3 linked regions of the Homo sapiens genome follow. The protein of the gene in region 1 binds, or shares a complex with, the protein of each later gene. Each region holds a gene or a part of one and is shown on either strand. Other genes may lie near its edges. The genes, in order: FRS2, NTRK2 and FGFR1.

Evidence for each region.
Region 2: the proteins of FRS2 (region 1) and NTRK2 are in contact, whole or in part, in an NMR structure (PDB 2MFQ), measured with the Homo sapiens proteins. Residues at the interface, in NP_001036020.1 of Homo sapiens: Val26, Asp27, Asp28, Asp29, Gly30, Tyr59, Leu60, Cys61, Leu62, Arg63, Arg64, Tyr65, Gly66, Tyr67, Asp68, Ser69, Asn70, Leu71, Phe72, Ser73, Gly77, Arg78, Ile86, Ala88, Lys90, Phe98, Gln102, Met105, Gln106, Ser109; in NP_001018074.1 of Homo sapiens: Pro498, Asp499, Val501, Ile503, Gly504, Met505, Thr506, Lys507, Ile508, Pro509, Val510, Ile511, Glu512, Asn513, Pro514, Gln515, Tyr516, Gly518, Ile519.
Region 3: the proteins of FRS2 (region 1) and FGFR1 are in contact, whole or in part, in an NMR structure (PDB 1XR0), measured with the Homo sapiens proteins. Residues at the interface, in NP_001036020.1 of Homo sapiens: Asn25, Val26, Asp27, Asp28, Leu33, Leu47, Thr49, Arg50, Asp53, Ser54, Val55, Trp57, Leu60, Cys61, Leu62, Arg63, Arg64, Tyr65, Gly66, Tyr67, Asp68, Ser69, Leu71, Ser73, Phe74, Gln81, Thr82, Ile86, Phe87, Ala88; in NP_075598.2 of Homo sapiens: His409, Ser410, Gln411, Met412, Ala413, Val414, His415, Lys416, Leu417, Ala418, Lys419, Ser420, Ile421, Pro422, Leu423, Arg424, Arg425, Gln426, Val427, Thr428, Val429, Ser430.

The regions. Positions count from the first base shown.
Region 1 is NC_000012.12:69,465,223-69,475,623, reverse strand, and holds the start of FRS2 (fibroblast growth factor receptor substrate 2), read right to left. Parts: upstream 5,237-10,401; 5' UTR 5,094-5,236; intron 4,936-5,093; exon of another isoform or gene 4,918-4,935; intron 4,832-4,917; exon of another isoform or gene 1,416-4,831; intron 1-1,415. UniProt on the Homo sapiens protein: Adapter protein that links activated FGR and NGF receptors to downstream signaling pathways.
Region 2 is NC_000009.12:84,670,970-84,681,302, reverse strand, and holds part of NTRK2 (BDNF/NT-3 growth factors receptor isoform a precursor), read right to left. Parts: intron 9,213-10,333; exon of another isoform or gene 9,132-9,212; intron 1-9,131. UniProt on the Homo sapiens protein: Receptor tyrosine kinase involved in the development and the maturation of the central and the peripheral nervous systems through regulation of neuron survival, proliferation, migration, differentiation, and synapse formation and plasticity.
Region 3 is NC_000008.11:38,464,273-38,475,479, forward strand, and holds the start of FGFR1 (fibroblast growth factor receptor 1 isoform 1 precursor), read right to left. Parts: upstream 4,364-11,207; 5' UTR 3,709-4,363; intron 3,453-3,708; exon of another isoform or gene 3,400-3,452; intron 1-3,399. UniProt on the Homo sapiens protein: Tyrosine-protein kinase that acts as a cell-surface receptor for fibroblast growth factors and plays an essential role in the regulation of embryonic development, cell proliferation, differentiation and migration.

The sequences.
Region 1 (10,401 bases):
TAATTCTAGAGTCAGAGGTCCCAGCCATTATCCTAAGTTTCCTCTAATATTCTTCCAGTGGTATAACAATCCACCCTCATCTAGTCACCTTTGTGACCAATGACAACCAAGGAATTTCCAAGACAGCTGGAGGGAGTGAGGGGTGTACTCCCTGGCCATCATTTAGACTGAAGCTAAATGGAACTCCTGACCTTTGCCTCATTAATACCAGGCTTACTGAAACTAAGCCAAACAGCCCAGACAAAGCACACACAAAACCCCCTGCCTCCAACAACACTGACACAGGACTCTTTCGACATTCCCAAGTGCCTGTGATATAGTGGAAAACATATTCCTGAAAAACAAAAGGAATGTATTAATTCTCAAGAAGGAAATAAACACTTCCATGGTAACTCAGTCTAAAAATAATAAACTTGCCCTCAAAAAGTTACAACTCTAAGCCTCATTCTGCAAACTATTATAATCTTTTACACATTAATACTCAAGTTCCCCCTATTTAAATACCTAAACAGAAAACCACACAAAATTCTATAAATTTACAGTTCTTAAACAGTTTCCAAAATAAAATATGTAACTTTCATATGTGTTATCATATAATGGATAAAAGTATCTTATTCTATCCCTCTAATATAATCCAAACATTATAAGCCAAAACTAATCATGTTAATCAAAAGAACTTATAAAATAGAGTTGGAAGAAAAATATGTAATCAAATGCCATTTTCTATAAAAAGCAATATTAACAGCCTTAATGAGATGTAAATATTATCTTTGAATATTCAGAGGTTCTTGATTTTGAAACCAAAATCGATGTCATACACATAAATAAGTGAAATACTGTATCAGAGATTTGCTTCCAACTCCTCACATACCACTTGCCAAACAAATGTCCAAAAGAAACAAGCTAACATAGCTTTTAAGTAACCAAATCTGACACTCTGGATGAAATGAGTCTGAAGTAGTTTGTCCTCCCTGAAACAGGGTAAAGATAGCATAGTATTCTTGCTACCCAGGGCAAGAAAACTGTATTTCCCAATTGGATTTTTAATGATCAGATTCTTTCTACTCCGTGTGAACCTACAGTGTGAAGAAGCAGTGGACATACTATCAAATTCTTTACCCACTGCATAAAATAAATCACTTAGCATATTTCCTTCTGTTTTAAACAGATGCCATTTAAAACAGAAGTTTTTTTTTTCTTTCCCCTCTACATTCTCCCTTGGCACTTTCATCTTCTTACACAGATTCAACCAGTACACCTATTTGTATTATTCACTAAACCCATGTTTAATATATGCCTAGTCCTGACCTCTCCCCTTAACCACAAATCCACATTTCCAAAAGCCTTTGGACATTTCCAGCGTTTGGCAAGTATACAAAAAAGTCAACAAATCCAAAACTGATCTCATTACGTACCTCCTTGCCCGTATTTCTAGTAAGAGTACCACCGTCAACATCTCCGACACTTAAAAAGTGTAATCTTCAGCTGGGCGCAGTGGCTCACACCTGTAATCCCAGCACTTTGGGAGGCTGAGGCAGGCGGATCACGAGGTCAAGAGATCGAGACCATCCTGGTCAACATGGTGAAACCCCGTCTCTACTAAAAATACAAAAGTTAGCTGGGCGTGGTGGTGAGCACCTGTAGTCCCAGCTATTCGGGAAGATGAAGCAGGACAATCACTTGAACCCAGGAGGCGGAGGTTGCAGTGAGCCAAGATCACGCCACCGCACTCCAGCCTGGCAACAAAGCTAGACTCTGTCTCAAAAACAAAAGTGTAATCTTCACCTTCCATCTCCTCCAAACCTGCTCCAAAAACCCCTCCTCCTCGCCACCCACCTACGACATTGAGGTCCTGCAGAGCCTTCACTCTAATTCCATTACCACTGCCCTTGCCCAGTATTTATACTACATTGAAAGTCAGCTTTCCACATCAAATCATTCTGCACACTACTCTATTAGACCTTGGTAACTTCTCATTACCTCCCAAACGTCGAACTTTTTTTCCCCAAATGTCAAACTTCTAAAAGCAGCACTTAAACATGCTCCACAATCCTGCCCCCACTTAAAATTCAAACCTCATCTCTAATTCCCAAAAATGAACAGTATATTCCAGGTAATCTGGTCCACTAACTTTTCTCCAAGTACACAATGAACTTTCCCACCTCCACACTTCTGCTCACATCATTCTCTTTATTTGAAAGGCCTTCTTCACCCACCTACTCCCAATCCATAAATCTTTGTCTTAGAAAAGTCTTATTCTCTGTAACATTAAACTCAGGTTACCAGTTTATTGGGGAGCAACATGATGCAGTAGAAACACACAGGCTTTGGCACCAGACAGATTTGGATTCAAATTGGGGCTGTTACATGCTAGCCACATAGCCCAGGCAAGTAACTTAACATATTTGAGCCTCACTGTCCTCATTATTAAGGTACTTACATATTGCTGTGAAGCTAAGAAAATGCTGTAAACAGCAACTAGCATTAAGTCTGTTCAGTAAATGCTCAATAAACAGTAGCTTCTGAGCTATCTCCACAAATTTCCATTACTTAAGCTAAAAATGAACCCTTTCTTCTTTTGTATAATTTACTCCAAACTTTACCTCAAACCACCCATAAGTATTTACAAATGTTTATGTTGTAAATGTTTACACAAATCTTATATCCCCTTCTAGATTTCAAATTCCTAAAAACCAAAAGTTTAATCTTTATATCCTAAAATGCCTAGTATAGCGCTTTTCATGAAGCACTCAACACCCATCGCCAATGTTAAGTCCCAATTACAAAAAAAATTGTTAGTATGCCTAAAGAATACAACTCAACTCTTCATGATTTCAGAAATTATTACCAAAACATGAAACTCAACTGTTATGGCTATACCTTTATTTGCTCCTTACATAGTTACCTAACATAGCATAGCAAATAGCATGCTATGCATAACATAGCATAACATGCATAGCAAATGCTCAGTGTTTGTTGAATTGACTTGTATAATATAAAAATACAATCAGTATCTGATTTTCCCCAATCACCTTTCTCTGCTCTTAAAACTCTTGAAGTATTTCCCTTAAAAATACATTGTCATACCTGCAAATCTGTAACTACATCTAACTTAACTATTTTTCCAGATTCTCTCAATTCCAATATTCCAATCTTATGCTCTAAATAATTAAGTACTTCACATGTGGAAGAAGCTACAGTTTCTATCTAAATTTAAAAGTTGTGCAAATATGCTGGGGATGGTGGCTCACAACTGTAATCCCAGCACTTTGGAAGGCCGAGATGGGAGGATCACTTGAGCCCAGGAGTTCAAGACCAGCCTGGGCAACATAGTGAAACCTCGGCTCTACAAAAAAAAAAAAAAAAAAAATTAGCCAGGTGTGGTGGTTGGTGCCTATAGTCCTAGCCACTCAGGAGTCTGAGACAGAAGGACTGCTTGAGTCCAGGAGTTGGAGGCTGCAGTGAGCTATGATGGGGCCACTGTGCTGCAGCCTGGGCAGCAGAATGAGGCTGTCTCGAAAAGAAAGAAAAAAGAAAAGAAAGGAAGAGGAAAAAGAAAAGTTGTGCAGCTAATCTCTCCACAATTTTTTCCAAGGACTTTAAAAATCATCTACCCTTTGCCTGTTCAAAATCAACAACCTTGAAATAAATTTTCCTTTGCATAGGAAAAGCTCACTGAACTTGTCACTTCAGTCTATTTTTCCTGATTCATGATACCACCTCCCCTTTCAGGGGTGGGAGGAAAGAGAATGACATAAGTACCCAAAAAACTACAGAATAAACCCTAATCTACACACAAGATGAGAGTTGCAGATAGCGTCACTGGTTTCAAGAAGGTGATTTGTGAATACTTTACGCTGCAAAAACAGTGGCCATCTGCTAATAGCAATAATCTGCAGTAACTGCATTCCCTTATAAAAAGTTTTTAAATCACCATTTATTGTGGAAAACCCATATTTCCTACAAACCTTTCAGCAGTAAAGTTTACTACCTAAAATCTGTTCACTAAACCTACCTACATCACTTTCTCCCCTAGGAAATCCTCAGTTTATCCGAAGTAAACACTTCATGGAATAAGTTTAAACAAAACATCTCTGCCCACCTGTGTGAAACTCTGCATTGCAGCAACAATTTTAACAGTGTAAGGAATCTCTCAAGAAAATCCAAGAACAATTTTTCCTTAAGAAAAATGACAGTTCCAAATATGAAGGTAAACAAACTTTGGGAGAAAGGATATAACTGTCCAACTCTTTAAAATCAATTCGTACAGCCTCTGAATGAACTCATCATACAACTGTGACATCAGATAGCCAAAAGAATTAAGAGTGTAGATTAGAGAAAAGCATCTTTTTTTTTTTAGTATGTCTGCAAAAAAAGGCGGGGGAGGGGGTGTCTAAACTACTGATTTTCCTTAAGCAAGTTTTTTCTTTAAGTTTACTTCAACAACAGCTTCAGCAAGCTTTCAAGTGAGTAAAGATGATACAGAGCATGCTGGTGCCACAGCGACCTACGTATCCAGGACCGGTTCCGAGCCCAGTCCAAATCGATCCCGGACAACCCTGAAGCAAATCTGGATGAAAAGCCCTGCAAAAGATCCCTGGCATGTACAGGCAGCGCCCCACCCTGGAGGGAAAAGACGACACCCCTGGGACCCGGGTTAATTACTGACCCCAGGACAGACCCAGAGGAGGCGAAAAGTCGGGAACTGGAGCCCAAGATTGAGTCTGGTGTCCAGCTACTACCCCAGGCCGGACACAGAATACCAAACTAGGGAGCGGCGAGGTTTGGGGCAGCACACATGAGGGGGGTCGGACGGACGAACAGAGGCCCAGCCCATCCCCACTCTCGAGTCCCAACAGCAACAACAGCTCTGGGAACCCCCTCCCTGGCTCCGCCCCGCCCACCCCATGGACCCACAGCCAGCTCTTCCCGTCCCGCTGGCCCGGAGAAGTCCGCGGCGGTCGACAATCCCCTTCCCCGGACGCCGGCAGCCGAGCCCTCAGCCCGGATCCCGAAGCGGGCAGCGGGGGCACGAGAACGCCAGCTCCGACGCGGGCCCGCGGCCGTCCCAGTCCGTTTCCCTAGCCACTCACCGTCCGCCCAGGTGCTGAGAGGGAGCAGGGCGCGGGTCGGCGGGCGCGAACCCCCAGACTCCGACCCGCGCTGGAGCCCCTACTTGGAGCAGATCGAGTCTCAGCCGCTGTGCCTACAAGGCCTCTCTCCGGCCCGAATCTTGGAAAAGCACTTCCGGGGGAGCGGGGGAGGGAAGGGTTTTGGCACCGGAACTGCTCTCAGCCCGGAGCTGCCAGGGCCTCCAGGGCGGGGCGGGGCCTCTCTCGCCGGGCGCCCACAGATCAGCCTCTGGGCTCCTAACTAACCCTTTCCGCCCCGCGCCTCCTCGATTCCCCGGCTACTGCTGCACCCTTTGCTTTAACTGCTGTTTGAGTTGTTTTACTCCAGCCAGCTAATTTTACAAATAAGGAAACCGAGGCTCGGAGAATTAGGTGCAAGAATCCAGTGCCTACACCCGGCCTCCCGACTCCCTTCAGTGTACTCTACGCTCCAATCTGCCTCCTTTAAAAAATAATGATAATAGTTAACATTTATTGAACGCTTACTACGTGGTAGGCACTGTATTAAGTCCCTTCGGGTGCATTAACTTATTTAATCATCCCCAAACTCCTTGGGGTTGGTGCTATTATCTACGTCTTGCAGGGGAGAAAAACGGTCAAAGATACCAAACCCAATCTCACAAATGTTGGTTGATTTTAATTCACGTGTGTATAAATCTCATCTACCTATACCAAGATTTTGAAATTATTTAAAAACAGGGCTCAAACTATATTCCTATATTCTGTCATCACTGGTGACTTCAACAGAGGCGAGAGCTGGGGTTGGGGGGTTGGGGGGGTTGGGGTGGGGATCTGGAATCTTTTTGCTTGTCTCCTTTTATTTACTTTTATTTTTTCACCCTGGCAAGTTATAAAATCATCTCTGCATTGTAGGAATCCAAAATGATAATGCATGATAAACATTTCAGAATGTCTGGCATTGGATAAAAGTTAACGATTCTTATACCTCATCAGCAATAGGCAATAGAAAAGATTAGTTAAGGAAATAAGAAAGAGTAGGGGTTGGCCGGGCGCGGTGGCTCACGCCTGTAATCCCAGCACTTTGGGAGGCCGAGGCGGGTGGATCATGAGGTCAGGAGATCGAGACCATCCTGGCTAACAAGGTGAAACCCCGTCTCTACTAAAAATACAAAAAATTAGCCGGGCGCGGTGGCGGGCGCCTGTAGTCCCAGCTACTCGGGAGGCTGAGGCAGGAGAATGGCGTGAACCCGGGAAGCGGAGCTTGCAGTGAGCCGAGATTGCGCCACTGCAGTCCGCAGTCCGGCCTGGGCGACAGAGCGAGACTCCGTCTCAAAAAAAAAAAAAAAAAAAAAAAGAAAGAGTAGGGGTTTTTACAACTGGAAAAATACAGGTGCTTGTGAAGCTCCATGCAGTGATAATATGAGGACCCACAGAGTTACATACCAGACAGGGAAAAGGGATGGAAAGGAGGAGGGCGTGGGATTCCTCAGCCACAAAATCAGAAAGGCACCAGATATCTGAGGCAGATTCTGTATCTGGGATGCAGGGAAAGAAAAAAAAGCCTCTTAGCAATGCATACTATCTGCAAAACAAATGTACTAACATCTCTTGAAACTGGGGGGGGGGGGGGTGGCGGGGAAGATTTTTAAATGTTTCTACTATGAAAGGCAGGGGAAAGGAAAAAAGTTGAAAACCCATTATTACAAATTTAAGATGCAAACAATGCCACTGCTCTTGGCTTTATTTACAGGGCTTTCTTACTTTATTTTTGTGATCGCAGAAGTGTTGGCAAATACTTCCGTAATACTCAAATTCAAGCAGCCTTTTGTGCCTCAGAGTGTGAAGAAGTAAAAAACAGCGTGGGTTGGCAGGACTCACCGACATCTCTTTTTACTCAAGGCCTAAAGGGATAGTGAGAGGAATCCTGAATCACAGATATTATCAGGCTCTGTGTGGGATGCAGAGGTGCTAGAGGTTAGTCATTTAATCTGGTCATCTAACTGGTAAATGGAGCCGCCTGGGTTTGAATTTGCAGACCATATTCTCAGATGCTTTTCACCACTATCCCAGTGGTTCTCAAATTTGAGAGTGCATCAGAACCACCTAAAGGGCTTGTTAAAACAGATTGCTGGGCCCCACCCCTAGAAGTCCCTGGACTAAGCCTCTCAACATCATCTGTGAACTTGTTACAGATGCACATTACTGGGTCCCGCCCCAGATCTTATGAATCAGAAGCTCTGGGGTGGGACCCAGCAATCTGTGTTTTAACAGGCCCTCCAGGAGATTCTGATATACTGTCAAGTTTAAGAACCACTGCATAAGATATTAAGAACTAATATCTTGTCTTCCACATATTCCTCTTTTTTTCTAATTTTTTCCAACAGGGATAACTCTTACCGGAGCAAAAGTTCTTGCCGTTGAATTAAATGACCTATTGAAGGATTTTTATTCATGTTTTGCTCTCAGTGAAAGAAGATGAGGCTAGAAAAAAAATTACTATAATGGAGGATTCATTTTGATTACTTTAAATTTGTACTGAAATGTAACCAGATAATACTGGGTTGGGGGTGGAACTAATATTATTTGGGAATTACTCTATGCCAAGGCTTTACACGCGTTTTCTAAATTAATCTTCACTACATTGCTATGAGGTTTTATGGTCTTAATTTTAGAGATGAGGATAACTGAGACTTAGGTGAAGTAATTGACTTAAGGCCACATTCTTGTTAAGGGGCAGAATCAGGATTGTGCAAAGATCCCTCTAATTCCAAAACTCATGTTCTTTCCACTTCGTGGCTGGAGCCTGGAGAACCAAATTCCACTGTGGGCTCCACTGCCCCAGCTATGCAACATTGATTAAGCGATTTAATCTCTATTTCGATTTCTCCATCTATAAATAATGTTATCATAAATCTGCCCCACCCACACTGGAATGTCAGAACAAATGAGGAAATGAAAGTGTAAGCACTTTCAGCTTTTTAAAGAAAAACAGTAAAAAGGCAAGTTATTAAGGCATTGTATGTTTAGGCAAGTGTTGCTGTGTGATTCTGGACGGTGAAGTCTTTCCCAATTATCTCCTGATTCATAAAGAAGAGTGCCAAAGAAAAAGTTGTTTGACTTCATTTACCAGTGTCTCCTGGAGGTAGAAGATGACAGAGGATTGTATGCATCTCTTGCAAAAATTACAAGCAATCTCTCACCAGGCTCATTCGGCTCCAGGTTGTTGCCAAATTGCTGGCCCATCCTCATCTTAGAGATGTCTTTTCTCCTAACCCTTTTCTTCTGTCCATTCCAGGCATCCCTCTACCCGCCTGCCTCTACCCACTAGGAAAGACTTAAAATTCCTTTTACTTTATTATGTAGAAGGATTTAACTCTCAATCCTCATCTCAGGCCAGACTCCAGGCCACCTTTATTGACACAATTACCATGTTGTGCAATTCCAGGGGGTGCTATTCACAAAGAATACAACATGAATGATGCTCAAGAGGTGACAAACACAAATGATGCCCCCTGGAACTGTGCAAGGCTGTGGCCCTGTCTATGCATAGCTCCTACCCCCAAAATCCATTAAGGTGTTTTGTTAAACAAAAGAGCCATCTACTTGGGTGTCCACCCTTTGCCAAGCTTTGAAATAATGGGGTTCTTTGATTTTGTTTGTTGGTTTAATGCAGATCTGATCCTAACCACACAGCTTAAGTTCTAACTTCCACACTCTACTGTGACACTTTTCACTCTTTTCTGTGACATTGTTGCCTATCTCCCCACTAGACTTGTGAGTTTCTGAAGACCTTTTTATATTTTGTCTTCCTCATCTTTTATTCATGCCTCAAAAACATTTGCTTTGAATAACAGCACAGTGTAACTAGTACATATGTATTAGTGTAAATATTTATGGCAAAGATTTGACAAATGTATTGTTTGATCCAGAGAGTTTTGTACCATGAAATAAATTGAGTCAAAATTTTAAAATTGAGAAATGTCATGTAAAAAAAAATCCCAATTTCTGGCATCCCTTGAAAATTTAAACACTCTGGCAGACATCTGGCATGCATCCACAAGGCATCAGTGACTTTAGCTAGATGCAGCATCTCTCTTCATCAAACAGTGCAATGAGTTGGCCTTACCCACATGTGGTATCTTTATGGTAGACAGAGTTTGGGACCACTGGTCCCAAAACATCATATGGATGTTTTAAAGAAACAAGTATAGAATTTTGCCTTATATATTTTACATGTGCTCATAACTATTCAATGTATTTTGAGGTAATTTTAAATTGTTTTTCTGGGATAGCAATTGTGGGGTACTACACTGTACTTTTTTTTTTTTTTTTTTGAGACAGAGTTTCATTCTGTCACCCAGCCTGGAGTGCAGTGGCACGATCTCAGCTCACCGCAACCTCCGCCTCTCAAGTTCAAGTGATTCTCCTGCCTCAGTCTCCCGAGTAGCTGGGATTACAGGTGCCCACTACCATGCCCGGTTAATTTTTGTATTTTTAGTAGAGACCGGGTTTCACCATGTTGGGCCAGGCTGGTCTAGAACTTCTGACTTCAGGTGATATGCCCGCCTCAGCCTCCCAAAGTGCTGGGATTACAGGTGTAAGCCACCATGCCTGGCCACGTTGTACCATTTCTAAACAAGCAAGGCAAGTGCAGACATCAAATTATAAATATCATTACCACCAACGTTTTAATGGAGTTGTAGCTAATGTTATTTGTCAACAGCCTTGGAAAGACAAAAAATGAATAATAGCAATTACTTAAATAGATTTGATGACAAACGACCCTATAGGGTATATATATATTTTTTTAATTTATTTTTTCCTGGATGGAGACACAAGCAAAGCTAGTTCAGGTAGCTAGCAAATGATGAGGTCAGGATTAGAATCCAAGCAGTCTGTCCCCAGAGACACACTCATAACCACTAAACTAATATTTATTGATCCTTTTCTATGTGCCATGGCCATGACTGCCTCCCAACTGAAAGAGACAACCAGATTTATAGAAGAATGTATAAATCTCTTCCAGGCCTTTTACAGGTCACTATAATAAACCCACATAGATCCTTTTCCCTCTCCCACCCCTCATATTGACATGTTTATAATCATTTTTGAAATGGACAAACTGCCACATGTCTAAAACTTCTTTTAATTCCCATATAGTTCTTGCATGAAGTTTGTTTCTGTTGAAAGTTATCATAACGAATCCTATGCACGTGGTTTCACAAACAACGGAAGAAATTTGAAGCCATATAATACTGACAGTGAAAACCAGTATCTCTAGTCAAATCCTGCTTGCGTGGAGAAATGG
Region 2 (10,333 bases), on another chromosome or scaffold:
ATGGTGCCATTCATTACAATAGGGAACACTGGCAATGGGTTTGGGGCAACAATGAAAAATTTTGTTTAGAAATAAGAAGTGTGACACACTCTCCTGTATCTGAGAGGGGTATTGCACACATGAGTCCAAAGGTCTTCACTGATAATTGATGGGGAAACAGATTAGGACATCATTAGCACAAAGAAGGTAACATAAGTAATGGATGAGGGTGATGTAGCCCAGAGATAGCCCAGGAAGTGAAGCAGCCATAGGACAGAATCCCAAGGGACATAAACTTTTAAGGTCTGTTTTTAAGAGCAGAGAAAAGGGAACCGACAAATAAAGCAAACAAGTAGCATGCAGAGAGATAGAGGGAAAACAAGAAAAGTGTGGTGACACCAAGGCCAAAGGAAAAGGATGTTTCAAGAAGGAGGGAGTGAGAAATGAAGCCAAGTTCTGCTAAGAAGTCAAGTAAGATAAGGACAGAGCAATATGGCCCATGAAGGCTTCTGGGGACTATGGTGAAGTGAGTTTGAAAAACAGTGGAATGGGACTGGTATAAGAGATAGGAAAATAGACATAATGAATACAGATCACTCTTCCAAGATCTGGCTTTGAAGGGAGAGGTACTTTAGTCAGGAGCAGAAGGAGAGGGAGGGAATCACACTAAAGAAAAACTTTTCTAAGATGGGAGGAACATGAACCTGCTTCAATTCTTATCTTAAAATGTGGAACAATAGAAAGAAACAGAAAATACAGGTATGTGAGAGAGGGAAAATTGCTGATAGAAAAAAGCTCGAGGTTGAGTGATTAGCTTCAGCTGAAAGGCGCTCCAGCCCTTCCATCGTAACTGGTTGCAGATGCAAGTTGCAGCTTACTCTAATGCAGTATGAGTGGAGGTGGCCCCAGGAATATCAAAAATTATTTGACAGAGAGAAAATAATGAAACTCAGCTGGATTACTGCTACCATAGGAAGTAAGGATTGGGAATTACTCACATCCCATCTACACATCAATGCTTCCCACTATTGGGAGTGTTTAGATGTGTATGCATCTGTCTCTTGCTAGATATAAGCTGCTCAGGGGCTCCTTGCCTCTGCAGAGTACCCTGTTTGTTGGACATCTCCATGTCCTCAATAACACTAGTGACACTGAACTACTTTTTGCATGATGGCAGCCCACCCACATGACAATCAGGAAATGTGACAAACTATTCCACCAAGATGAAAAGACAACTTGATGAGCAGAAAAATAAGATTTGATGTCCATGAAAGCTTCTGCTCTTGGGGGTCACAGAAAACAGAGACTAACCAAAGAGGTCAGTTAGAAAACTTGCCAGAGCCTCATCCACAGAAGTGGGCCAGGAATGGGCTGAAAAAGTCTTGAACACTACTCCCAGGGAAAAAAATAAAAATTTGTTTCTATTGGTGGGAAACCATGGAAGGGCTGTCACCCAGGATGGCAGGAAGCTGGTGACCTGCAAAACCATCCAGCCTCAACGGCAGAGCTGGACTTAAAGAAAACCTACTGGTCAGGTTTCTGCTGTTTAGCCACCAAAAGAACTGAAGCAGGCTCTTGTTTGCCCCTGGAGTGAAGGCAATGGTGAATTCTTGAACAGAAAAGGAAACACTAGTGCTCATGGCTGACTGATTCAGAACCACAGAGTCTTTCAAGGAGTAGCATGCATGAGTGTCACAGCCTCCAGGTTCAAGATGAAATCAGTCAGGCTGGTGAGGTCAAGTGGCTCAACCAAAATCCCAGACCCTGATACTGTCAGAGAGTGGGTATCCAAAATCCTAGATCCCTAACCAGCGCTCCTTTCAGTTATACCACGTTCCTATACTTTGTCGCCTTTCCCACTGTGTTAACCTTACCAAGCCAGGTTCAGTTGAAACAATGATGGTCTGCCCACAGGTCGTCCACCAGAAAAAAGTACACAAGTCAAGATTTCTTTACAATCCATTAAAGGGGGTTTACAGCCAAATGATTGTTTGTATATATATGTCTGTGATTTGGGAACAGAGGAGAAGGGGATAAGAAACACCACCAGAAACAGAAAGAGGCTGAAGAGTTGCAAAGAGAAAGGCCAAACCCATGTACCTTAGTCCATGTGGGCTGCTAAAATAAAATATCTTAGACTGGGTAATTTATAACAACAGAAATGTATTGCTCACAGTTTTAGAGGCTGAGAAGTCTAAGATCAAGGTTCTGGGAGGTTTCATATCTGGTGAGGGCCCATTCCTCATAAATGGCACCTTCTATGTGTGTCCTCACATGGCAGGAAGGACAAACAAGCTCTCTGGAGTCTCTTTTATAAGGGCACCAATCCCATTTTGCCTTTATGTCCTAATCAACTCCCACCTCTCAACACCACTACCCTGGTGACTGAGTTTCAACACATGAATTTTGGCAGAATACAAACATTCAAGCCATAGCACCAGACGCACACAAGAAATAACCAAGGAGCAATATCATCTATAACATTCTTTGAGTTTGGGTGGTAGCAGCAGGGTTTTGAAGTAAAATTGGGAGTAAACTAAAAAGAGTGTTCTGGTTTGGGGTTTTGTTTTGTTCTTTGGAGAAAGACACTTGTTTTGTTTTGTTTTGTTTCACCATAGTTGTGTGTTTTTTTGTCACACCTTACCAGGGAATCTAGGGGCTATGATGTCAAGCTCTCTTGCCCAGCACCCTCCACCCCTACACATGCATCACACAGAGGAATAAGCCAAGCCCAGAAAAGAGAGGTCACTTGCCACACAGTGAGCAAGAGTCAGACAATTCAGGCATAGGCCCCTCTGCCACCTCACAGCAAGGGACTCTGGGGTACATGAAGTAGAAACAACTCTTGTTACAAAGATTAGCGTTGAGAAGATCCTTTCTTTTTAAATTGCACTATATTGCAGAGGTTGAAACCAAAATTCCGATACCTTTCAATTTTGTTTACATTGTTCGTTTATGTTGAGAAGATATCAAAGAATCAGAAGATAGACACAGTGGGTCTCTGAGTGACCAGGTCGGCTAACAGGGTCAATGCACTAATGCTCAAGTACTTCTCTCAAAGAAGACAGCCCAACCAGATCCTGGCCAAGGGACATCCAGAATGATAAAAACAAAATTAAAATAGTGGTTTAGGGAAGCACATTCTCAATTATTCAGAAAATTTTACAACTCAAGATAATTAAGTTGAACAAATTACACATGGCAGAGTTTTATACACAGATTTATGTATTGATGAAAACACGGTACACACATACAACATTATGGTGTGTGTCTATGTGTGTGTGTGTAGACAATTCTTGGGATATGAAGATTACAGGAAAGGATGGGATGCTAAGTAGCAATTTGTCCTTATTTGACATAAAAAAAGGAACTCTAAATGGTGTGTGATTATTAACAGTTTTATTTTGTACAAGAAGATGCCATATTACCAAAGGCAACCAAATCATTTATCTCTTCACAATATATATCAGACTGCTCAGGAGCTGAACAGGAGAAGAGGATAGGGGTGGGGAAGACAGAGGATGAAGCACCAGCCCACCTCCTTCCCACTGCATGAAGTTTAATCTGTGAACATGAATTCAAATCTCTAGACCTCTCCTAGAATTGCCTTGGCTCTCGAGGTCAAATTTGGGCACCAAGGTTGGAGTAGACAGAGCCCTAAATGAGACATTAGATAGGATCCTACCCCTAAATTATGCTCTGCTTTACCAAGGGGCCCAGGCAAACTAATAAACCTCACAGCCCCTCAGAGGCTGCCAAAACCTCCCCACCTTCTTCAGAGTGAGGCTGTAAACCTAAATAAGCAGATGTCTGTAAAGGGCCCTTCACGTCCCATGGGAGCAAATCTTCATGCAACCAAAAATATGTCTCAGAAGGGTGCTTTTCCTGGAAAGGTCTCAGAGCAGAACACGAACAACACATAAAATGGTAGCTGGATGAATTTTGGATGGGAGCCAATAATCCTGAAGTTTGCTCACTGGCTCAGCCACTGAGACTAGTCATCAATCTTGAGGCATTGAGAAGTCAGGGGGAAGAAAGAAGTCGGGGAATAATAAGTACTCTCTGGCCACAGGTCTTTCAGGGCAGCTAACACAGACCTCATCGAAAGGGCTGCGGGTTTCTCCACTTACATAAGCACCCCCGACTGTGGCAAAGACTCCAGGGGCAACAGGTTTCATTTCACTCTGTCTGCTCTGCCCCTCTTCTAATGCCAATCTGCAAAGATGGCCCAGCAGGCCCAAGGTTAGCATACCTCATTGCTGCCAACTCATGAAGGCTTTTCTCTGAAGCTCAAATTTTTTGTGTATGAATTGCCTAAAGAAGAGGAACACTTCAAATTTAACACACACACACACACACACACTCACACACAGTAAGCTAAACAGAAAATATATTTCTTCCTATATGAAGATAAGATGATTGCTTTCAGATCAGTAGCTCATGCACTTTTCAATTACTTGGTCTCTCACAGAGATGAGTTTGCACAGACTTAGCCATGTTAAACTTGTCTCCCCATTTATGGTGGTTCTATTAGGTTGGTGCAAAAGTAATGGCAAAAACCACAGTTACTTTCGCACCAACCTAATAAAATGATGAGCCAGAATTAGGCGGTCTGTTTGAGAACACAGAACGGAGGGGAGGCACCCTAAAGCAAAGGCCCCCAGCATTCATTTGGATGCTAGGAGAAGGAGCTTCTAGTTCCCACAATGCTGTTAATGAGTCGGCCTTCGGCAACTTTCTTCACTGCCCTTGATTTTTGCAAAGAAGAGGCTGAAGCAGATCATTTCTAAAGCCCTTTCTCTTTCTGAGGTTCCGATTCTAAGTGACCCATCTGAACACTGACCCTGTGACCTTGGACTCATCAGACCAGTACTAACATGCCACTAGCCTTGTTAGCAGCTCACATTTAAAAAGACATGGTTTGAGGGAGTTCAGAGCAGACACTGAAAACATTTCCACATAACACTCTGACACCAAAGGTCTTCAGATTCACACACTGCCAGACCCCGAGCACCTTGTATCATGCCCTTCCTTCACAGCTGATGTATACACTTCCTTATCTCCGTGACCGAGGCTTCAGGGAACTTCAGAGCCTTGAGAAACTTGTCTGAGCATCAAATCCAAAGCCCTCAGTTTACATGTGACAAGCTGAGGCCCAGAAACATTAAAAGGCTGCTTCAAGATCAGGTAACTGGGTAGTGACTGGGTAGTGGTGACATTGGGATGAAGTTCCAGGTCTCCTGACTTCAGCTTTCCATGATATGCTTTTTTATTTTTATTTTTTGAAACACATAAGGAATAAACTTAGTATCTACACATTGCTTTTCTTTGCAAGATTTTTGTAACTTTGAGCACATTCACTCATCCATCTCCCAGATCAATATTTATAACTTCCCAGTCCTTTGGACACCCCAGAGAGCAAAGTAAGTGGTGAGAAGGCACCCAGTTATATGGGACCTTTACTTTTCTAATGGAGATTGATCAGCAATCAAATGTGAGCTAAAATTATCAGGCCACAGTGGAGCTCAGATCTTTGCCATTTGAGGCTTGAGGTGGGATTTGTTTTAAAATAGCTCAACCAAGTAGACTATAAAAATGATTGATCAACCATAAATAATCCAAGATTCAGGGTTTTTTTTCTTCCCTCTATCTTTCTCTCTCTCTCTCACAAACACACATCAAACAAGTAAAAACTTTGCCATGCTTCAATAGTCTCTCCCCCAAATCCTCCTATTGATTACAGGCATCAGAAGCAACTAAAAATTGGCATTGTTCCAAGGGGCAGGTCTTTCATGTCACATCCTACGCTATAGCTTTTGAACCTACAAGAAACTCTCTAGAGAAGTGGTAAAGTTAGCCAGAGGGATAAGGCCAGTTTATGGTATTCAATAATGGTTTGATAATGTTTTTTTCCCTAGCAGGCAAGATGACCAATGAGTTAAAACTGGATGCACTTGCTTAACACTCAAGGCAAAAAAAAAAAAAAAAAAAAAAAAAAAGGAAAGAAAGAAAGAAAGGAGAAGAGAAAAGAAATTCAATTCCCCTTCCCCAGCTAAACAAAAACACTAGTTTTTATACTCCTATGACCTAGATATAGTCAAAGAGATCATACAGAATATTACTAGGGAGAAAGAGACCTCAACTCTCAGCTGTTCAGCCAACTCTTCAGCTTAGAAAACACCTTTATAAGGGAATATTGAAGCAGACACAAACAGAGGTTTATGGGATAGAAACAGTGAGAGACCTTAAACAGACCTAAACTCCACACTAGGGAACTGGGACCACATTGCTTCAACTTCCCAATACTTGCTTGTAATAACATACAGCCCAGGCTCTTCTCTTAACTCCAGCATTCTGAATTCCCATAAGGAAATATCACTTTTCAGAGAAGAAAAAAATCAAACCCATTTTCCTGTATAAATAATGGGTGATGGAAGGGGAGGTGGAAGAAAGTAGGGTCAAAAGGGTCACAAGGCTTTTCCACTGTTTTACCCAGGGTAACAAAAGTGTCCATATTGCAGAGATTGAAGGTATGAAACTAAAAAGACTCCACACAGTTGTGCCAAGCTGATGTCTGTAAATACCTACACTATGAAGACAGCATGTTCTCAACTCCAGCTTGCAAGTTGTATTAAATAATGAATGATGTAAATTAGACTGCCTTATTCATTAACAAGTCTAGTGTGGCTTATGTAACCGTGCTCCAAATTTAAATACATGGCTCTTAAATGCATATAAGACACAGTCCAAAGTTCTAAAACCCCCAATGGAGGGGCTGAGAAGTAAACATCAGAGTAATAAAAATTGATGCCTTTCACTGAATCTTTGTGAATGCCAGGATTTTTTTTTAAGTACAATTAATTGCAATGGCAAAGCTTATTAAAGTAAGAGGGCCAAAATCAATGTATTAATGACACAACATTACAGCTGCTTAACCAGGCCAACAATAAATTGCACATAGAGTCTGTCATAGGAGAAGCTCCAAATTCTATTTAGGTTGTGCTAAGAGGAAAAATATAAGGCTGTTCTCAAATATTACCCCCAAATCAGAGAATACCACTGGAGAAATTCAAAAAAAAGATCCCTATTAGTCTTCATAAAGCACGTGCAACATAAAAATGCATGCCCTTCCACAGCAACATGGATACACAGAACACTACTGAACTGTAAGATGGTACATTTTAGGTTATGTATTTTTTTTTTACCACAGCTAAAAAAATGCACGACTTCTTTTGACTGTGCCTTTTACCACTTGGGTGAAACAGAACTTGTCCTTTGCAATGCACTTTGGCACTTAATACAACTGGGATTTAAACGGCCAGTTACATAATTCCAACAACAGGCTTCACTCTTGAATTCCATTGCATGTGACATTGGTACTGCGTTTAAATTCATTTTAACACTGCTGTGGTATAACCATTTCCAAATAACAGGAGCTGCCACTTAGCAGTGTGATGTTGAGCAGGCGTGATACATACCTATAGATAGATATTGATCTAGTTATGTCACATTAGTGGGCAAAAAATATAAAACAGGTACTGTGATGGGAAGATTTTTAATAAAATAGGTTCAATGACTCTGAAGACAAAATGTCAGCTTAGCTGAAAGCATGCATGTAAAAACAAAACAAAACAAAAAGATCCTACCTCTTGGTTAATCTACACATTTTTTTTAATGTCCCACTATTTGTGTTCTTAGAACCCTAAGGGCATGATGGTTTAATATATAGATGCTAAAAGATACACCATTTTTGAATGATATGGTAAACCGTTGTTTCAGCAAGTTGTGTGTTGCTAATCACAGTTTATTCACCACATTATTTCTATTTTTAAAAAATAGACGCACGTAACTTCAGCTACATACCACTAAACCAGAACTTTACAACAGGTTATTTTAGGAATACCACTGGGCCTAACAACAAAGTTTTAAAATATGTATAATTTGGTTCCAACTGTAGCTGGTATCCACTGGACAAGAATTTAAAAGCTGTGCAAGCAAATATTAATATGTAAGAAAAAGAACATAGATGGTGTCATATAAGGATGCGAGTGAAACAAGCGCATCCACTGATGTCATTTTTAGGTCAAAAAAGCAGAATTCAAAATAATTATATGGAGTACTTTCCAAAGAAGTATTGTCATACGAGTTACAGACAAAGGCACTGGGGCACAAACTGGCTGGGCTCACACAAAGCTGAGATAGAGCAGAGAAACATACTTTGTCTCAGGACTCACATCTACCCAGCCAGACTAATATTACTAACCTAATTCCCTGTTCTCAACACTTAGCCCTATATACCTCTCCAATCCCACAACCCCAAGAGGTTTTCAAATCAAAAGGGAAAAAAGTTAGAGTAGAAATTAGAAGTGCCACGATTGAATGAATAACTATGACACATGCTTTTGTAAATATTTTTAAAATCTACTTTAAAAAAGCTGAAAATAGGAACCTGCCATCAGATATAAAAGAAGCAACAACAATTGTGAGGACAGATATAAGAAAGCTCTGCTGAAATCAATTGATTTCATATACATCAGGCAGCTAAGATCAGGAAGGTCTGAAATAATAATTTTTTAGATTTAAAGATAGTTTTATTTCCTTTTTCTCAGATCATGGCCTTAAAATTATCAAACAGAAAAACAAAGTGAAAATGATCAGCCCTATCTTCTTTCTTTCTTCATTATATGCATCTATCACCTAAAACAGAATTTTAAAAGCACCACCACACACACACAACAATATCTGACTGTGGAAGGCACTCCCCATAATCTCAAAACAGTCAGAAGCACTCTGAATTCCATATGGCCTTCTCCATCTAACTACTGACACCCCATCTCATGAAAAAGATTCTGACAAAAGGCCACAGACTTTGGACCAGCCTGGTAAGCCTCAACCAGCCCAGTCCAAGACCACCACAGTTGGGGCCCTATCCACCCTTGCTCTCCGCTCTTGGCTCCTGCTCTCCTTGCCAAAAAGATAGAGATCCTAGCACCCTGGACTCAGCCCGACAGTTGGCTGCTCCCGACACATCTCAGCTATGCTAGGCCTGAACATTCCCCTCTGCTCTGCTGTCATTTCCTTTTGCCTGAGGCTTACACCATAAGCATCAGCAGCAGAACAGGCAACAGAGACTAGGAAGGTCTCTTACTTACATTAAAAAACAGGTTATCTTGGTCAACTACGTTGGCAGAAACATGGTTGTATGTTTTCTGTGGAAGGAAAAATGCATGCGCACTCGACAACCGGAAGGCCACAGCCCAAGCCCCACTTTAGGGCTGCCTATCTCAGTATCAAACACAATAAGGAAAACTGGGAGAAACTTTGCCTTACAATCTTCCACGTATACGAATAAAATCTCATGTTAATGAGATGTATGGAATGACAGCATCCTTCAGGAAAAAAATGATAACAATAACAGTCCAGTAGAGGTGACACAGGAATGCTAGAGAAAGGACTGGCAAGTTCTTGCTTGGTGATGCATTTGTCACAAAGCATCAGAAAAGGAGAATAGAAATACACAGTTCTGTTTCTTCAAGCCACAACAAGCTCAAACATTTCCAGGGACACAGAGGTCCAATGCTAAAGCCAGCCTTCATCAGAGTTCTACCCAGTGCTTTATCATCCAACCTAGTCCTGGGAAATTATTCAATGGGCAATTAAGAGTTATAATCCAAGTGGTCTCAAAATCATATCTCTGGGAAGTCAAGTCCAAATTAAATTAGACCAGGCTTTTAGGCTTCCAACTATCATATTTTTTTCTTTTGAGCGAGTGCATTTCAACACTCAGAACTTCTCCTCTTACAGATCATTTTCAAGGCCATCTCTGGATGCCATCTCCTAAGCAAAATCCGATATATAAAATGAAAAGGGAAATTGGTTAACTTAAATCTCAAAAAAGATGTTAAGGGAGAGACTGTCACTTCCCTCAACAGATTTGGGAAAGTTAATTATTTTAACCTCTTTTCTAGTGAATATTAATGGAACTTCTAACACAACATACACACAGCACTTTATGAAACAAAAATGCCCAAAACTAAGTTAGTGCATACTGAAAGCCTAAAGCACACCCAGCAGAGCTTTGAAATATAAAAAGCATAGTGAGTTCCTTCCCACGAGGAATAAATATATAATCGGCATATGTATATCTATATTTGAAACTTATTCTAAAGTGTCACACTTCTCCCTGCACTAGCAGTCCCAAGCCAGTGAAACAGCAGGTAACTGACAGATGACCCTGTCCTGCATCCCTTGTCTTTGACTTCTCCCCACTCTTGGGACAGCATTCACTTCCAGGACCTACCCACCTGGCCAGCTCGGGCCCTAGGGGCAAGGAGAAAAAGGAGGAAAAGCTCCA
Region 3 (11,207 bases), on another chromosome or scaffold:
CCACAGCACTCCAGCCTGGGCGACAGAGCGAGACTATCTCAAAAAAAAAAAAAAAAAAAAAAAGCAACAAGTGAAACACGAACTGCTGCACATAATCTAGAAAACCTTGCTCTTGAAGACAGGATGTACTATGAGTGGAACCCCACCAAATTCTTGGGATAGTTCATCCATGTGAGGGCTATTAAATGGGGGAGAGGGCCCTAAACATGGTTTCTTTCATTGCAGGGGAGAGATAAATGGTGGCGAGGAGAGAATTTCTGTTTAAAGTAGATGCAACCTTAGGAGGAAAAACAAATATCCTAGCCCAAGTCTGACATTTCATCCTCTCTGGAAACACCAGAATCTTCTCTAAAGCTCTGCATCTGGGCTCCCACTAGTCCCTGGTGCGTTCAGGCCTTTTACAAAGCTCTGGGGAAGACAAATGTAAGACACAAATTTCCCAGGAGGAAATTAAACTATCAAGTGATGTGAGGCCCTTTCAGAATAAGACATTTGAATCAATTCTAACTCCTTTTCCTCCAGCAGCAACAGGCTCAAACTTTGCTAGGATGTTCTATAACTAACAGCCATTTTGACGAAAGACACTTTAGAAACGAAGGCAAGAAAAAAGCCTTTGTAGAAGCCGGCTGCTAAACCCCCAAGTTCATACCAGCAAATCTCTCATTTTAGGAGTCTTGTTTCAGGTCAATACTGAAAACAAAGAGCACACCACTAAAAGCAAAACCCATGGATTTTCCTTGGTCTCTAAGGCTTGAATCTGCCTACCCAGTGTTCAATTCAATTTTCTTGCCCTCTGGAGTCCACCAGGAATAAAGCTAGCCCAGCCTGAGGGATGCACCGATGTATCTAATCCTCTGCCCCTAGGGAGTGGGGGACGCTTCTCCATTTCTTCCTGAGCCTTTGCTTCCCTTGCTATCAAAGGGCCACCTAATGGAACTGTCTAACACCCTCCATGGCCAGAGGCCAAGGAAAAGAAGCACCCTAAGATTGTTCAAGTGGTGCCCACTCTGGCCTGAATTCCCATTGGGAAAAATACCTCGAAAATGAGCATTTCTGCAGGCATGTTTGGAAAAGCAGGCAGTGAAGTACGCAGTCCAAGTGGCTCTCAATCTGGATGAACCTCATTAAAAAGCTGACACTCAGCTATGACTAAGAGTAAATGCAACAGATATTTCAAGCAGCTCGTCACTGATGCAGTTCATAACCCTCCCAGCTGGAGTCAGGCCCCAGCAGCCTCCCGGTCCCCAAACACCCTGCACTCGGAGGGTCGGGGCAGCCCCGGAGCTTCTCCTAACCCACTGGGGGTAGGATATGTAAACAAGTCATTAGGGAGGCAGGCCATCGGCAAAGACGGCCGGCAATAGCAGAGGCTGCTGAACCTCGGTCACCGAGAGGAAGGTGGATGACCCGGGCGTGGGGGTGATTACCCAGACCAAGGCGCGTCCCACGGGGCCCTGCTACTTCGCTTTTAAACAAGCCTCAGGGAGGAAACCGGGAGCCCGGGCCAAGGGAGGAAAATGGCCACTTTCTGCTAAACAGTCTCAAGGCTAGATAGTATTCCAAAAAAAGCGCTGGTCCGGAGGTGCAAAGGGTAGGGCACATCTGCGGAGGAAACAGTCACCTTAATTACCACGTCTAGAGAAAGTGCGATTTCATTACAGCCTCCAAAACTACCGCCCAAAGAAGGAAACCAGAGAAGTGTTTTCAATTTGAAAGAGGCTGGAAAGAAGCGGGTAAGACACCGACTCTCCCCACCCTCCCGGCAACTTTGGACCACAAGGCGCTTTCCTGCCTCAAAGACTATTACCAAACACAACTCGAAAATCCAACCCCGCTTTCAAACCTGTAGCCGTTATTTAAACGGTAAAACACCCCACTTTAGTTTCCGGGGGATGCGGCCCAAATCAGTCCTTAAAAACACACAGAGAGCGCCTCTGGCAGCAGCCGCCCACGCCCCCGGCCCTGCGCACCGGGCTTGCTCCGGGAGGGGCGCGTGACGCCACCGCGGGGCAGCCGAGAGGGGACCGCGGGCTCCGGGCAGGGCAGGCGCTCCCGCAGCTCCAGCTATAACACAAGGGAGAGAAAGCAACGCTTTGGTTCCAGAAACTTCCATCGTCAAGGCCAGTTCTGGCCAGACGCACAGCCAAAGAGCCCCCCTAGTCTAGCGGATGAACCGTTCGCGAGTGGCACCCCCTAAAACCTTGGCCCCATCTCCCAAGATGCCTCTTTACTGCGCAATCCAGAAAGCACCCGGACCGCCGCCACCCACCAGCGGCGGCGAATAACTTGGTGAGATCTTAAATAACTCGGGATCCAAGGGAACTTTCTTTTCTCCCCCGAATCTCAACGCCGCATCTCCAAGTCTCCAGAAATGTTAAGGAGGGAGGTGGTCAAGACAGGCTGAAGAATCTGAGTTTTAATTTGGGGGAGGGGGAGGGGAGGAAGAGGGAAGTTAATAATGCGGCTGCGGTGTACCCGTGTGGGGTGAAACGGAACCAGATGCGGCTGCTACATCTGGAAATTGGGGGTGGGGGAGTGCTGGGGGAGAAAGGCACCGTGGTAATGTTTTTCAAAAGGGTTGATAGCTTCTGGGCTCAGAACAAGAAACAGGCTTCACACCCCACCCCCCCCCCACCACCACCAAAAAAGTGTCTGGCTGCCTCATAGGGGGTGTGTGTTCTATATGAACCCCCATCTACAAGGTCCATAAAATTCCTCCGCAAACATGGGTCGTAGCCTCACTTTTCTCCCAACCCCAAACATAACGGTAGGGGAAGCGAGGTGCAGAGGGGTCTGGGCCAGAGAAGCATACGCATCGCTGCCGAGTGAACCACACCGGACAAAAACCCTCATCCCTTCCCCCACCTCTAGGAACCAGATTGGGACCGAACGGTCCTTCCGCCCCCATCCCACACCTCGGCTTAACGACCGTGGGTTGTCCTCCCGTTCCCCAAACTTCCGACCCTTTCAGAGACCGTCCAAGTCATAAGATCACCCCTTCTGGAAAGGGGAGTCGTTTTTCGCTCTCAGCTCAAGCAGATTCAGCCATTTGGTGACGACACCTCCTTAAAACCTATTCCAAGAGAAGCTAACCTAGCCCTCCACGTCCTCCGCAGTTCATCTCCCACCCCATCCGACCCCAACCCGCACCCCAGGCTTTCCCGGGGGTGGAAAAGGACTTAGGAATGCCCCGGATTTTTAGCGTTGAGCCCAAAGCTACCTGCTGAATTGGGGGTGAATCCCCAAAAGGGGACCAAAAAGACATGGAGTGGAATGCAACACACACACATAACACACACAACGCATCCCACCTCGCCGCCCACTCCCGCCCTCCTCCCCAGTCCAGGAAACCGCGGGCCTCGCCGCCTTCGCCCCGGGCCTGTCCCTCCCGGGACTCACTGAGGAGCCGCCGCCGCCTCGCCAGCTCCCGAGCGCGAGTTGGAGGAAAAGTTGGGCGGCGGGAAGAGCGGCGGGACGAGCGCAGGGAGGGGGCGCAGGAGACGCGGACGGAGGGAAGGGAGGGGAGACCCAAGGGGCGCGGATCGCCCGGGAGGGAGCCAGGAGGTGAAAGGGGCGGGCGGCGAGCGGAGGGAGGCGCCGGCCCCGGCTGGGCTGCGGCGGGCAAAGCGCGCAGCCGGGAGGCTCCGGCGCCGGGGGCCGCTCGGGACGCCAAGCCCGCCCCAGATCCGGGGGCGCCGCGGCTCTTACCTCGCTCGGCGTGGAGGTTCCGCCTCGGGAGAGTCCGCCGTGGCTTGTGCGAGCGGGCGTGTGCCCGCGTCCCCGGCTCCGGCCCGCCGCCCCCGGGCTCTGTTCGGGTCCTGGCGGGGTCGCAAGAGCTCCGCGGCCGGCGCTCGACTCCCGGCGGCGCTCGGTGCTCGGCGCCTCCAGCCCGGGCGGGAACAATGGAGCCGGAGCTGGTGCCCCGGAGGCGGGGCGGGGGGAGGGCTCCCGTCCGCCACCCGGGGTCTCCAGACCTTGTGCCCCCCTCCTCCAGAACGCAGCGGCGGCGCCTCACTTTCCTTGCAGACCGGGCTCCATCGCCCTGCGGAGGCCCCGGCGCCGCGGCGTGCCCGACTGCAGCACGGGTACCGTGCGCCCTGCGGGGCGCCCCGAGCTCGGACCGGAGAAAAGTCCTTGGGTTCCGCGGCTTTTCAAGCAGCGGCGCGCTCGCGGCCGGGGAAGGCGAGGTCGCCGCAATGCGCTACGAGGGGTCTCGGTCCCGTCCGGACGTGGCCGCCCAGCTCCCGGCACACCCGGGTTCCTCCGCGCGCTGCGGCTGCACCGGCGTCCCGGCTCCCGCTAGCTGCCGCCCGCCGCCGAGGACGCCGCGCCTGTGGCCGCAAGAGCGCTCCGAGCGCTATGCGCCGGCGGGGCGCGAGGGCTCGCTCTCTCACTCCCACCCGCGCTGGTCCCTCCTCCGCCTCCGCCCCCTGCAGCTGCCTGCTGGGCCTTGTAGTTCCCCAGCCGCGGCCCCAAAGGACGGGGAGCGGGCCGAGCTGTCCGGCGCTCTGCCCTTCTCTTCCTACAGCCTGGTCTCCTTTGGCGTTTGCGCCCCTGCATCTGAGCACGTCCCAGAGGGCGCCGGAATGTCAGGCCCTAGACATAGCAGCGGTTTGGGGGCTAGGGGGCAGGTGAAGAGACGCCGCAGCCTTGAGGTTGTACCTGGTAGCGTGGGCTTTGGAGTCTGTGCGCCTTGGGGAAATGATTTTCGCGCTCTAAATCTCTGTTTTCCCATCTGTAAATGGGGGATAATAGTGCTTTTCACATAGAGTTGAGGCGTCAACGAGGGCCTAGCGCATAGTTAACACTTAGTAAATACAAGCCGGTTTTATTATAAGGTCAGCCCCTCCTCAAACCCTTCCCTTGGATTTCAGCTTTCCCCAGCCACATAATTTAGGTTTTGTGGTCCACCGGGAACTGGACCCTGTAAATTCTACAGCGATGCTGTTGGCTTCCAGAAGTCTCCAGCCTGCAGTGAATGTCTAGGAAGCAAAGAGTAAGCAGTGGGAGTTGAGGGGAGACGTGTGGTTGGTTTGGAAATTAATCACAGCCCACTCAGAACACCCTCCAGTACTGTGGAACACAGGAAAGTGGCTAAAATGCTTCCCCCTGAGTCTTCCCGCGAAGTGGTATAATGTAGTGGTTCCCTAATCCAGATGGACACGGGTCCTAGGGAACGTCTGAAAAATACAAGTTCATGGGCCTGCTCAGACATGAGGAATCACGCTGTCCCAGGAAGGAGCCAAGAGCCTTTATTTTTTCCAAGGCTCCTTGGGGCGTGTGATGTGAGCCCAGGCTGAGGCCACCATTGGGGTGGGAAGTAGGCAGCACTTGGTCTGAAGGATTCCTCCATTCTGTCCATCATTTATGAAGTTTGATGTAGGACAAATCATGCATCTGATAAAATCAAAACGGGGTATCTGTTGATACTCCTTCACAAGATGGTCATAAGAATCAAATAAAATAATAGCTCTCAGTGGACCAAAAATATTACACAAATGGAAGTCACTATGAAAGGTAGTGGCAGGGCCTGTTCCCTTACCATCACCCACCTCAACCCCGAAACTTGTAGAAGTTTGAATACTGAATGAGATCCCCCCACCCAACTCCTCACCCAACCCACCCACGCCTCCCTGGCTAATTTAAGAAAAGAGTTGGCCGGGTGCGGTGGCTTATGCCTGTAATCCCAGCACTTTGGGAGGCCGAGGCGGGTGGATCACGAGGTCGGGAGATCGAGACTATCCTTGCCAACAAGGTGAAACCCCGTCTCTACTAAAATACAAAAAAATTAGCCAGGCATGGTGGCGCTTGCCTGTAATCCCAGCTACTGGGGAGGCTGCGGCAGAGGAATCGCTTGAACCCGGGAGGCGGAGGTTGCAGTGAGCCGAGATTGTGCCACTGCACTCCAGCCTGGCAACAGAGCAAGACTCCGTCTCAAAAAAAAAAAGAAAAGAAAAGAAAAAATGGTCCTCGCGCTATTTTTCTAATCCACCAGTAGGTGACAGACTAGTGGCCAACACAGTGTTATTCACATAGTAGACACTCATGAAATCCCTTGACTGGCCAAAGAGCAAATATTCAATAAGTATTTGTTGAACAAATGAGTAAATAAACAACTAAATTACAGCTCACGCCTGTAATCCCAGCACTTTGGGTGGCCGAAGCGGGAGGATCACTTGAAGCCAGAAGTTCAAGACCAGCCTGGGAAACAAAGTGAGCCCTTGTCTCTACAAAATATTTTTAAAAATTAGCTGGAGGTGGAGGCTGAAGAAGGAGGATGGCTTGAGCCCAGGAGTTTGAGGCTGCAGTGAGCTATGATCCAGCCACTACACTCCAGCCTGGGCGACAGAGTAAGACCCTGTCTCAAAACAAAATAATACAAAACAAAAAATGAGAAACAAGAACTCATATCTTTGTTGAATAAATGAACTTCAGCCACTGTTTATAGGGTTTTCCCCTAAGAGCCACCATTTAACCTTTCAGCTCCTGGTCAAGCTTGGTTTATACTCCTATGTAAGCTGCCCACCCATTAGGCCTCCTGCATTTTAATTACTACACATCACACGCTTGTAAGAAGGCCATACTCACACCCTACCCCCAAGAGGCCTTCCCTGCCCATCCCAGCTTTGTCAGTCCCTGGACCCCCTGCTCACTTGCTGACTATCCACTGAGTTGATACCGTGCTTTGTTAGTGGTTTTCCTTACTCTGCTTTCTTTCTAACTGGTTTCTAAACTGCTTTAGGGCAAGGATCTTATCTAGGTGTCTGACCAATTCTACACAGGAGGTTTTCCATGTATATTTATTGTTCATGGACTTGCTAAGCATAACCAACCTGGGTTACCAGAGGAGGAAACACAATTTGAGGGAATATGATTGGGAAGACAAGCCATGAAAAAAATCCAGCATTTAATGTTAACACCCAGCTACTATTTTTCTACTTTGCTCCGTAATTCTTCTCAAAAAAGGGTTTTTTTTGTTTTCTTTTTTTTTTTTTTTCCTGAGATGGAGTCTTGCTCTTTTTGCCCAGGCTGGAGTGCAATGGCACGATCTCAGCTCACTCAGCTCACCTCTGCCTTCTGGGCTCAAGCGATTCTCCTGCCTCAGCCTCCCGAGTAGCTGGGATTACAGACACCTGCCACCATGCCCAGCTAATTTTTGTATTTTTAGTAGAGACAGGGTTTCACCATGTTGGCCAGGCTGGTCTCGAACTCCTGACCTCAGGTAATCTGCCCACCTTGGCCTCCCAAAGTGCTGGGATTACAGGCGTGAGCCACCATTCCTGGCCCAAAACAAGGGGTTTTAAATCAAGCCCCTTTTTCTTATGATTTAGAACCATTGTAGGAGTATCTTGAACCCCAAATAAAAGGCTAAATAATGCGTTCTTGATTTAAACAGAAAGATAATGATCTAAATGCTTGTTTGGGGTTGAGGGACATGGGCCTGCTGCTGAAAAATCCTCTATAGATTTATCAAGAAGCCAAAATGAAAGCAAGTGGCCAACTTGCCAGGGTCCCTCCTCCACTTCTCAGGGAAAGAGCTGATGGCAGCTGAACAGAGAAGGTGAGAAACTCAGCAAAGGCATGGGCTGTCCACACACTGCAGACAGGTTTCTGAATAATTGAGAGTTGGCTGCTTTTATCCTTCCAGCCCACCTCGCTCCTTTTCTGTCCCACTCCTCTACTCGCCCTCTTTCTGAAATGTAGCCCTCCCATTTCTGGAAGGGCCCCAGGCCAGTGGAGGGAGAGTGTCCCTAGGGCAGCCCTGAGCTGCTCCAGGCAACAGGGGTCAGACAGCAGCTCTGCCTGTCTCTGTTCTGCCCGAGGCCTCCTGGCACCTTGCCTCCCATACAGAAATGTAACCTTCCCTCTGAGATAACAAAGAGCTGGGAGGGTCAGGGAGGATTTGTCGGCCCTTCGCCCTGCCAGCTACATGTCTAAGGGGAGACAAAGGCCCTCATGCTGGAGGGCCTGATAACTGGTTGGGGGCCTGTTGCCTCCCACATCTGTGGGAGGAGGAGACCACTGCTGAATGAAACGAAGGGAAACGGAGCTCTCCCCAAAGCCCGGCCAGCTCTCTTTGTTTGGGAACACTGTAGGAAATCCCTTCCCTGTTCCTCCAGCTACTTGTGTCCTCAGAGTTTTCCCTGGCAGACGGGAGCTCCTCTTCCCCTCTCCCCACATTCCTTCTGCCCCTGCTCTATCTGGGTTCTGTTATTTTAGGGCTCAGCTGTGCCTACCAGGAATGATCACCCCACTACCCTGGGTCGATACTGCAGAATTAACAATTCTTTGTTATGGAACAAGTCAGGTAAAGTAAGCACCATTGACATGGGGCAAGGTTGCAGAACTTCCAGCCCAGGCTTCAAGAGTCCCCAGGATGTGGTGAGAGCTGGCAGAGTCTCCACTCCGAGAGCTGGTTGCAGAAGGGGATTCGGGAGGAGGGAACTGTCTGGGGTTTTCCCTACAAAGTGGATGGTTCACAGGTCCTGGGAGCAGGTGGGCAGCCAAGCCTTTTGCCCCAGGCCCCTGGAGTTAGGGAGCAGCAGTCAGTCACCATCTGGCCACCATTTGGTGACCCCTGTCTGTTCCCAGAGCAGCTTCAGCATGTCAGGGAAGGGAGGGTCTTATTTGGCTTGGTGTTTTTGTAAATAACATTCACTCTCTTCTGCCAATTTGGAGTGAGAAAGGGAGCGAGCTGTGTGGCAGCTCAGCTCTGTCTGGCCTGAATGCCACATCTATTCACGGAGCCTGGGGGTGTCAGGGAGCACTTCTTGTGTGTCAGGCGCTGTGCCGGGCACAGTGGATCCGAAGATGAAAGAGATGAGTGCACAGCCTGGGGGACCTCACTTGTCTTGTGGGGGAGACCAAACATGACACGTAGTGCCACCCGGGGGCATCTGCAGGGGGCTGTGGAAGGAGAGATCAGGAAGGAAGATGACTCAGGGGAAGCGATGCCTGAATCTTGAAAGATGGCAATGTGAAAATCCACAAACTCATCTGGGATAGCTGAGGAAAGCAAGCCTGGAGAGTTTGTGTTGAGGGGTGGGGGTGGGGGGTAGACAGTTGGTAGTCACTGAAGCATCGAATTATTTTGCTCTGAAGGGATGAACTTAGTCTCTGGGGTCAAACAGTTTTGAGCATGGGTCCTGATTCTGCCACTTATTGCTAGCTGTGTGATCTTGGGCAAGCTAGTTAGCTCCACTGCATTTGCTCAATGGTGAAATGAAGATAACAATGGTAACTGTTCTTCCCAGGACTGTTGAAAGGATTAAATGAGAAAATGTGTGTAATGCACTTGGCAAAGCGCCCAGAACATTGTAAATGCTCAATAAATGGTAGTCATTGTTGTTATTATTATTTTTTAGCCCAGGAACTTTCCTTTGATGGAAGACACCTTCTGGAGCCTGCATATCTTTGTGGCTTTTTTTTTTTTTTTTTTTTTTTTAGATAGGGTTCCTCACTCCCCCAGGCTGGAGTGCAGTGGCACGATCTTGACTTACTGCAGCCTCGACCTCCTGGGCTTAAGCAATCCTCCCACTTCAGCTTCCCAAGTAGCTGGGACTACAGGCATACACCACCATGCCCAGTTGGTTTTTGTATTTTTTTGTGGAGGTGATAGTCTCCTTATGTTGCTCAGGATGGTCTTGAACTCCTGGGCTCAAGCCATTCACTTGCCTCAGCCTCCGAAAGTGCAGGGATTACAGGTGTGAGCCACTGCACCCAGCCTTCTTTGTGACTTTCTTATGTATTTACCATCTCTACCCCCACTTCCACCCTGGATTCTCTGTTCCCCAACACCAGCTGCAGAAAAGGATATATTTTTCACCCTCATCTCCCTCTTCCTTGGTGTACCCCAAGATAAACAGCCCTTTTTGTTATAGATTTTACTGTGAAATAAGAGAAAAACAACAAGAACACATATGGGGAAGCTAAGGGGCCCTATTAAACCTCAGCGAATCCTTCCAGCTATGGTCGCTGGTCTAGGATTCTGACTCCCTTCAGAACACTAAATGCAAACAAGCTGGTCTTCTGTCCTGTGTGTTTCTTCAGGGTTCTCCAAAGGCTCTCCTCTTTCTGACACAGACTTGTAAACCCTCTCCTGGTTAAAGCCACTCATCCAAGGGCTGGGGTCTGGAGAGGTGACAGAGGAGGCAGTGGCAGAACAGTGAAAAATTTGCATTTCTGAGGACCGCCCTCCACCCCCAAGAGTGAAGGACCTAGTTCCTTAGGCTTTGCCCTGCCTAGGTACAAAGATCAAAGTTTCAGGGTTAGGCTGAGATACTTGAGGATTCAACTTTGATGCGGATTCCATCCAAGGATATGCTAATAAAGTTGCAGCTGACTTCTCCTGGGTTGTTAAGAACCTTTGGCGATATTGGGCTGGGTAGGGTCAGAGAGGAAGATAATTTAAAAATAGATGGTGTTCTCCCATTCAGGTTAAATTTCCCCCTAACTGAATTTTATTATTCTGTCAAAACAAAACAAAATAGTTAACCAAATTTTTAATAGTGGTTTTCTTTGGGAATGTGATTGTAAGAGGCTTATACTTCGGTTTAGTTTTGTTTTTTTGAGCCAGGCTCTATTTTTTTGAGCCACCTCTCTCTGTTGCCTAGGCTGGAGTGAAGTGATGTGATCACAGCTCCCTGGAGCCTTGAACTCCTGGGCTCAAGTGATCCTCCTGCCCCAGCCTCCCAAGTAACTGGGACTACAGGTCCATGCCACTATGGCTGGCCAATTTTTAAATTTTTAATTTTTTGTAGAGACAGAGTCTAGCTATGTTGCCCAGGCTAGTCTTGAACTCCTGGGCTCAAGTGATTTTCCCACCTTGGCCTCCCAAAGTTCTAGGATTACAGGTATGAGCCACTGTGCCTGGCCCATTTTTTATGTACCTTTACATTGTTTGACTTTTTTGAGAGGAGTTTTTTTTATAGGCCCTGGGCTGGAATCCTGTGTGCTACTGCCCGGCTGCCTCTGCCCAGAGGAAGTGGCCTTCCTCCAATGTGCTCCAAGGCACCCTGGCCCTGATCTTGTACTAGTTTTCTAATCAGCAAAATATAATAATAATGATAATAATAATATATAGTGATTTTTTTTTGAGGCAGAGTTTCGCTCTTGTTGCCCAATCTGGGGTGCAATGGCGCCGTCTCAGCTCACCGCAACCTCTGCCTTCCGGGTTCAAGCGATTCTCCTGCCTCAGCCTCCAGAGT